Linked DNA regions of Homo sapiens. The protein of the gene in region 2 interacts with the protein of the main gene of each other region in a biochemical or structural test. Each region holds a gene or a part of one and is shown on either strand. Other genes may lie near its edges.

What was found. Proteins that work in one complex are often made in the same cells at the same time.
Region 1: the proteins of KCNJ12 (region 2) and RADIL interact in a test that uses a peptide from one of them, tested with the Homo sapiens proteins (one large-scale study listed by IntAct).

Annotation. Positions count from the first base shown.
Region 1 is NC_000007.14:4,831,717-4,835,216, forward strand, and holds part of RADIL (ras-associating and dilute domain-containing protein), read right to left. Parts: coding exon 2,891-3,500; intron 463-2,890; coding exon 425-462; intron 1-424. UniProt on the Homo sapiens protein: Downstream effector of Rap required for cell adhesion and migration of neural crest precursors during development.
Region 2 is NC_000017.11:21,414,011-21,417,609, reverse strand, and holds part of KCNJ12 (ATP-sensitive inward rectifier potassium channel 12), read right to left. Parts: intron 2,324-3,599; 5' UTR 2,268-2,323; coding exon 966-2,267; 3' UTR 1-965. UniProt on the Homo sapiens protein: Inward rectifying potassium channel that probably participates in controlling the resting membrane potential in electrically excitable cells. Probably participates in establishing action potential waveform and excitability of neuronal and muscle tissues.

The DNA of each region.
Region 1 (3,500 bases), on a different chromosome or scaffold from region 2:
TAAAAGTACAAAAAAAAAAAAATTAGCCAGGCATGGTGGTGCACACCTGCAGTCCCAGCTACTCGGGAAGCTGAGGCAAGAGAATCCCTTGAACCTGGGAGGTGTAGGTTGCTGTGAGCAGAGATTGCACCACTGCACTCCAGCCTGGCGATAGAGCAAACAAAACAAAACAAAACAAAAACAAACAAAAAAAGAAGACCTCACCCATCCAGTCTTAAGGGTGCCCTGAAGCAATTTCCCAAAACTCAGAGCTTCCCAGGGTGATGACTAAAGAAGCAAAAAAGGCCGCTGCTTGGATGGAAGGACAAAGCCCAGAGCTGACCCCAAGGCGTGGGGAGACCCCTCGGGACTTGGCTCCCCCGGGAAGTGTGAGCCCCCAGGACCTGCTGCCCAGAGGCGGGCACAATAACCGGGTCATACTCACAGTTGCGCCTGCTTCTCTGCTAGTTCTTTGGTTTTCTCCTACAATTACAAAGCGGGAGAAAAAGCAAGTGAGCAAAACAGGCTAACACAGGGACGCGTTCAAATACACGATACCATCGACAGGAAAACAAGCCATGCTGCCCCAGGCATCCTGTGTGACGCTGACTATTTATTCAAGCTGTGCTGGAAAGGACATTTTCCATGTGACTTCAACATCTTCCCATTCCATTACCGACTATGACCTACAAGTTTGCTACAATAGAGTATCTCACAACTCTCTAGCTTACATAACAACCGGCTATTTAAAAAATAGTAGAGGCTGGGCAAGGTGGCTCACACCTGGAATCCCAGCACTTTGGGAGGCTGAGGCAGGCAGATCACTTAAGGTCAGGAATTCGAGACCAGCCTGGACAACATGGTGAAACCCCATCTCTACTAAAAATACAAAAATTAGCCGGGTGTGGTGGCGCATGCCTATAATCCCAGCTATTTGGGAGGCTGAGGCAGGAGAATCCCTTGAACCTGGGAGGCAGAGGTTGCAGTGAGACGAGATCACGCCACCGCACTACAGCCTGGGTGACAGAGCGAGACTCCGTCTCAGCAAAAAAAAAAAAAAAAAAAAAAGAATTATTCTTGCCTTAGTAGTAAGTTATTATCCGGCTGAATGTAACCGTGATGGCTGAGTGCGCGTAGACTAAGCGTGTATATTTGGTAAGGAATGAGGACGGGGCAGCGGCGACACAGTTGCACATTCTCAGGAAACAAACGCGCAAATGATATTCGCATGGGATCTGGACAGCACCCAGCGGAGGCTTCGGATTCCCACAGTGGGTGCAGGGGGAAGAGGTGGACTCAGGCTCGGTCTCATGTCTATCAGCTCAATCTCTGGACCAGGCAATTCACCTCTGGGAGCCTCTGTTTCAGAGCCTGTAGCATAGGGGCAGGGTGAGCCCTGGTGTGCTGCAGGGAGTGGGCCAGCCACACAGCGAGCCCCAGGTGGCTGGGACACAGGCTGGGACCCGGGTCCCTCAGCAAGTGACTTACGGCCCCCTGGCTTCAGTTTCCCTGGCTGTGACATGGGGTGTGGCATCTACATCGTCAGGGTGGTTGTGATAAAGAAATTAAACAGCGTTTGGTTTGCAAGTAAGTGCCTGGCGCAGAGGAGACTCGGGAAATGACAATGATCGTGCGAAAACCCATGACTTCTGGCCAGCAGGTAACTCTCGGTCACAGTGGCCACGATGTGGACACACACTACAGGGACATCACCTGGCCCTGTGTCCATGACTGCACGGAGGGGACACGGGCACGCTGCAGTGGCACTCCCATCAAATCCCAAGCCGGGAACCCGAGGGGAAGAGGCACGGACACCCAGATTACAACACCCACGGTGCACAGAGACGGCTCCCACTGACATCTGGACAGGGAAGCCTGAGCTGGCTTTTACTTTTTAAAAGTCTCAGACATTTAAAATGTGGATTTCGATATGAGAAAGTGATAAGGTTTCTACACAGTCAAGTGGTTCCCCCTTCCCCTGTCTGCCGGGGATAAGCGGGGCCCAGACTAGCGAGGATCTGAGGGTCTCTGAACGAACTTGAACAACTACGAGTTGTCCTTCGGGTCCCTGGGAGCCAAGTCACTGTGGGGTGGGGCCCAGCGGGGGGCCATGACTGTGTGATGCCTGTTCCAGCACTCATGGGCCCAGGGCGGTCCTGCTCACTGGCGGCCACACTGGATTCCTGGGGACATTGGCAATGCCTGCAGCCATGGGTGTATTGCGTGTGTGTGTGTGGCGGGGCGGCAGAGGGTGACCGGCATCTAGGGGTGGAGGCCGGGGATGCTGCTGAATCCTCTGCAATGCACAGGCCAGCCTCACAGCAAGGAGCTCTCCTGCCACAGTGTCCACAGGGCCGGGGATGAGAGAGGCTGGCCTGGAGGAAAGTTCGTCAACGCACAAAAGGTGACGGGCCCTGCACCTCCAAACTCGGATCAGGGATGGCTCCAGCGGGTATGTGCTCAACCGGCCCCTGGCAGCAAGCACAGGGCGCCGGCACACACAGGGGCTTCTGGGGCTCTTGGGCAGGGGCCTGTGAGAGCTATCAATGTCACCTCGGCCTCGTGGTGCCCAGGCTCAGGGGCAGCTCACTCCTGGCACGTGACAGTGCTGGGCCCAGCTGGACCCCAGGGAGGGTACAAGCCCAGAGCTCAGGAGGTGACCTAGGACCCCACGCAAACCCCACCCTCAGGGGCAAAGGGCTGCAGCTGACACCTTGGGTTCTGGGGCTGCTTCTGGTGGCCTGTGGGGCTGGGGGGCAGCGACAGGCAGGGAAAGGCCGCCCTGCGCTCAGCAGCACAGCACCGTGGGGGTCAGATAGAGGCGCTCCCGCCTCCCAGCCGGGGCCAGCTCCGGGCCCCCTCTTCCCCCAGACCGGCACAGGACCCAGACCGCCCACCCCAGCACACTGACCCAGACAGTCTCGCGGATCAGCCTGGCTATCTTGAGCAGGAGCTGCCCGAATGTGCCCGGCTGGAAGTGGGTGGCCGAGTGCTGGATGCAGAGGCACAGGAGGAAGGCGGGGGTCAGCTTGTGGTCGTCGCCCCCCGGCTCGATCAACGTCATGATCCTCTGCAGCAGCGTGTCCTCCAGGTGGGGCTCAAACTCCAGGAGCAGCTGCTGGCGCCGGGGCAGGGCGGCCTGAGTAGGGGAGGCGGCTCCCCGGGCCCCGAGCGCGGCCCCGCACAGCCGGCAGCTCTGCGGCACAGCCCGGAGGCGCGCCAAGGCCCGGGCGGGCAGGGGCTGGGCCTGCGCGGGGTCCTTGAATAGCAGCAGGTAGTAGAGCCCCAGGGAGAGCAGGTCCCCGTGGTGCAGCACCACGGTCCTGTGCCCCACCTCGGAGAAGTTGACGGAGATGTGCGCCCCGGGGATGGGCTCCAGGACCAGCCTCCCCGCGGCCTGGCCGCTGTCCGGGAGCGGTTGCCGGCGGATGGTGCAGTGTAGAGGCAGGATGTCGGGGGCTGAGAGGCTGATGCTGGGCTTGCTGGAGGGGGTCCGCTGGCCCACCGTGTGCCGGTCCCGG
Region 2 (3,599 bases):
GATCCCGACTTCCCTTCCCAAGGAGCCATCCCGGCCTATAGCTCCTAACCACCCCTCACTGTGGAATTGGGCGGAGGCCTGGACAGAAATGGAGAGAGAAGCAAAACAGGAAAATCGAGGGTGCGGGGAGGAACCCTCGATGGCAGGTCCCATGCCTGGCCCTGAGACACATCTCTAAGGTACAAAGGCAAACTCTAAAAGCTCAAACCAGTTTCTTCCCAGCCCCACCCACCACCCCAACGACAGTAGAAAGCTTTTATTACGATCATTAACATGGTCTTGATTTTTCTATCACAAACAGAGCCTAGCTGGCTCGTGAGCTCGATGAAGTGCGGTCCCAGAGCACCCTGCTTGCCCAGGGACTGTGGTGCCCACACACACGGGGAGAGGCCAGTCCCACCTCGGGGAACCCTCTGGAGCCTTCAGCCAGCTGCTGCATCCTGGCAGACCCATGGAATTCTAATTGTTCTTTTTGCCCCCTGTGAATTAAAAAAAAATTTTTTCAATTGCATGGTAATTTTTTTTTTTTGTAAACAGTCTCACCCAAGCTAAGGTCAAGAAAGCTGAAACCCGGTGTTTCTCCCCAAGTTAAAAACCAGCAAGGAGCACCGCAGCTAGCCAGCCTTGGACAGCAGAGGCTGGGCCCACCATCGAGCTGAGCTGCTTCCCCGCAGGCTGCAGCTCCATCTTCAGGCAGAAGCCCTGGCCCTCGTGGCCTGGCCCCCCAGGAGGCCACTTCTTTGCCCTGAGCCTGTGATAGCCTCTGAGGCCGGGGGCTGCCGCTCTGGCTGCCCCCTCTCCGGCCAAACTTCTGAGGCCGTTGCAAAGAAACATAAAACGACTAAAACGCTACTGAGTCTGCAACCCAGGGCACTGGGCCCGTTCTGCTCAAACCCGGGGCCCCTGAGCGACCGCGGGGCCTCTCCCCAGCCGGGGGTGGATGCTGCATGTCGGCCAAGGTTGGCTCAGATCTCTGACTCCCGTCTGTAGGGCCGCTGCTCCAGGACCCCGCCGCCAGCCTGGAGTCTGTCAAAGTCATGCCTGGCCTGGGGGCTGAGGCCGTCCCGGCTTCGGCCGTCCTGGTCTCCGTCCGCCTCATCCTCCTCGTCACGGCTCAGGAAGGCCAGCTCGTTCTCGTAGCAGAAGGAGTTGGCGCTGGGCAGCAGGAACTTGTTCTCTACCAGATCCTTCGCACTGCAGCGGGGCGTAGAGGGCACCTCATAGGTCTTGTGGAAGTGCGAGTAGTCAATCTTGTACTGGTTCTTCTCCTCGAAGAGCACGGGCTCAAAGCGGTGACCCCACAGGATCTCATTGGCCAGGTAGGAGCTGCGGGCCTGGGTGGTCATGGCTGTGGCCTCCACCATGCCTTCCAGGATGACCACGATCTCAAAGTCGTCCGTCTCCAGGTCCTGCCGGCTGATGCCGAAGAGCGGGCTGGCCTCGTCAATCTCATGCAAGATGGTGATGGGCGACACCAGAAAGATGCGGTCCAGGCCCTTGTCGAAGCCCACATCGATGTCGATCTGGTCCAGCGGGATGTACTCGCCCTCCTCGGTGACCCGCGGCTTGATGAGCTGCGCGCGCACATGGGCCTCCACAATGTGGCTCTTGCGCAGGTTACCCACACGCCACATGAGGCAGAGCTTGCCGTCACGCAGGGCCACCACGGCGTTGTGGCTGAACAGCAGCGTCTGTGCCCGCTTCTTGGGCCTTGCCATCTTGGCCATGATGGCACCAATCATGAAGGAGTCGATGATGCAGCCCACGATGGACTGGGCCACCACCATGAAGACGGCCACCGGGCACTCCTCCGTCACACAGCGCAGCCCGTAGCCGATGGTGGTCTGCGTCTCGATGGAGAAGAGGAAGGCCGCCATGAAGCCGTGCACCTGCATCACACAGGGTGTGCGGCCCCGGCCCTCAGCCGGCTCCAGGTCACCGTGTGCCACCGCGATGACCCAGAAGATGATGCCGAACAGCAGCCAGGAGGCAAGGAAGGCCAGCGAGAAGATGAGCAGCATGTACCGCCAGCGGATGTCCACACAGGTGGTGAACATGTCAGCCAGGTAGCGCTGTGACTTCTCGTCCATGTTGGCGAACTCAATGTTGCACTGGCCATTCTTCTTGACGAAGCGGTTGCGGCACCTGCGCCGCGTGTGCACCTTGCCGTTGCCGAAGCCGTTGGCGCCCGACATGGTGACCAGGTGCAGCCCGTCCTCCTCCGATGACACGATGCTGTAGGGGTTGGCCCGGCTGGCCGCGGTCATCCCGGGGGTTGGGGGACCCTGGCTCGCCCCCAGGCTAGCTCCAGGCAGGGCGGCTCCTGCAACAGAGACGACAGCATGTCTGGCTGGGCTGGTGGCTCCGGGCTCCTCTACCCCCATCCCAGGGCCCCCAGACGTGACTGGAGGACGCTTCCACCCTGATTGACCCACGATCGTGCTCTGGTCTTGCCCAAGCCAGCTCCCCACTCCGCCTTCCCAGTGCGAATGGCCACCCCCTTCGGGCCCCCAGCAGCTCCAGCCAAAAACCTCAGCTCCACACCTCACTCCCACACTGAGGGCTCTGAAGAGTCTATTTAGGATCCGACCCCTTCTCCCACCCTCAAGGCCTGAATCTAACAGTGCCTGCCCAGCCAGTTCGGGGCACAACTTGCCAGCCTCTCTGCCTCTGCCCATGGCCCCCCAGTCTCCATGGCAGCCACAGAGGGCCTGTGGAAGCTGAGTCGGTGCCTATCCCTCCCCTGCTCAATGCCAGAGGCCCCCCAGGACATGCAGGACCTGCACAGGGAAGCTCCTGACCCCTCGGACCTCACCTCCCAGCCTCCTCCAGCGGACTCCCCTTCCGGCCACAGCCCCTGGCCCCAGGCTGTCCCTCAAACCCACCCTGGACACCCTCCCGCAAGACATCCTGCCACTGCCTCGCCACCTTGGCACCAGAGGCCTCCTTGTGCCCCAGGAAGACCCATGTCCCATCCCTGCTATATCCACAGCACTGCCCCTTCTAAGGGCACAATGGCGGCAGCAATAACAATAACGTAGCCAGGGGCACTCAACCATCAACCCCACCCTGAGACCACCACTCCCTAAGGGTAGCACATTTTCTTTTTTTCTTTTCTTTCTTTTTTTCTTTTTTAGACAGAATCTTCCTCTCGTCACCTAGGCTGGAATGCAATGGTGCGATTTCAGCTCACTGCCATCTCCGCCTCCTGGGTTCAAGCGATTCTCCTGCCTCAGCTTCCTGAGCAGCTGGGATTATAGGTGCCCGCCACCACATCCAGCTAACTTTTGTATTTTAAGTAGAGACGGGGTTTCACCATGTTGGCCAGGCTGGTCTCAAACTCTTGACCTCAGGTGATCCACCTGCCTCGGCCTCCTGAAGTGCTGGGATTACAGGCGTGAGACGTTTTCTCTTTTGCTTCTTGTTGTCCTTCCCAGGGCCTAGAATGCGGCCTGCCACCCCTGTCGCCACCCACTTTGAACACCCCAAGCTGGGTCCCACCACCCTCCTGACACCCACATGCCCCACTCTACAGTGTCCACCCACATGCCATGCTTGCAGCTTCTTGGTCACCAGCAGTGCCAAAGAGGGTAAGATCT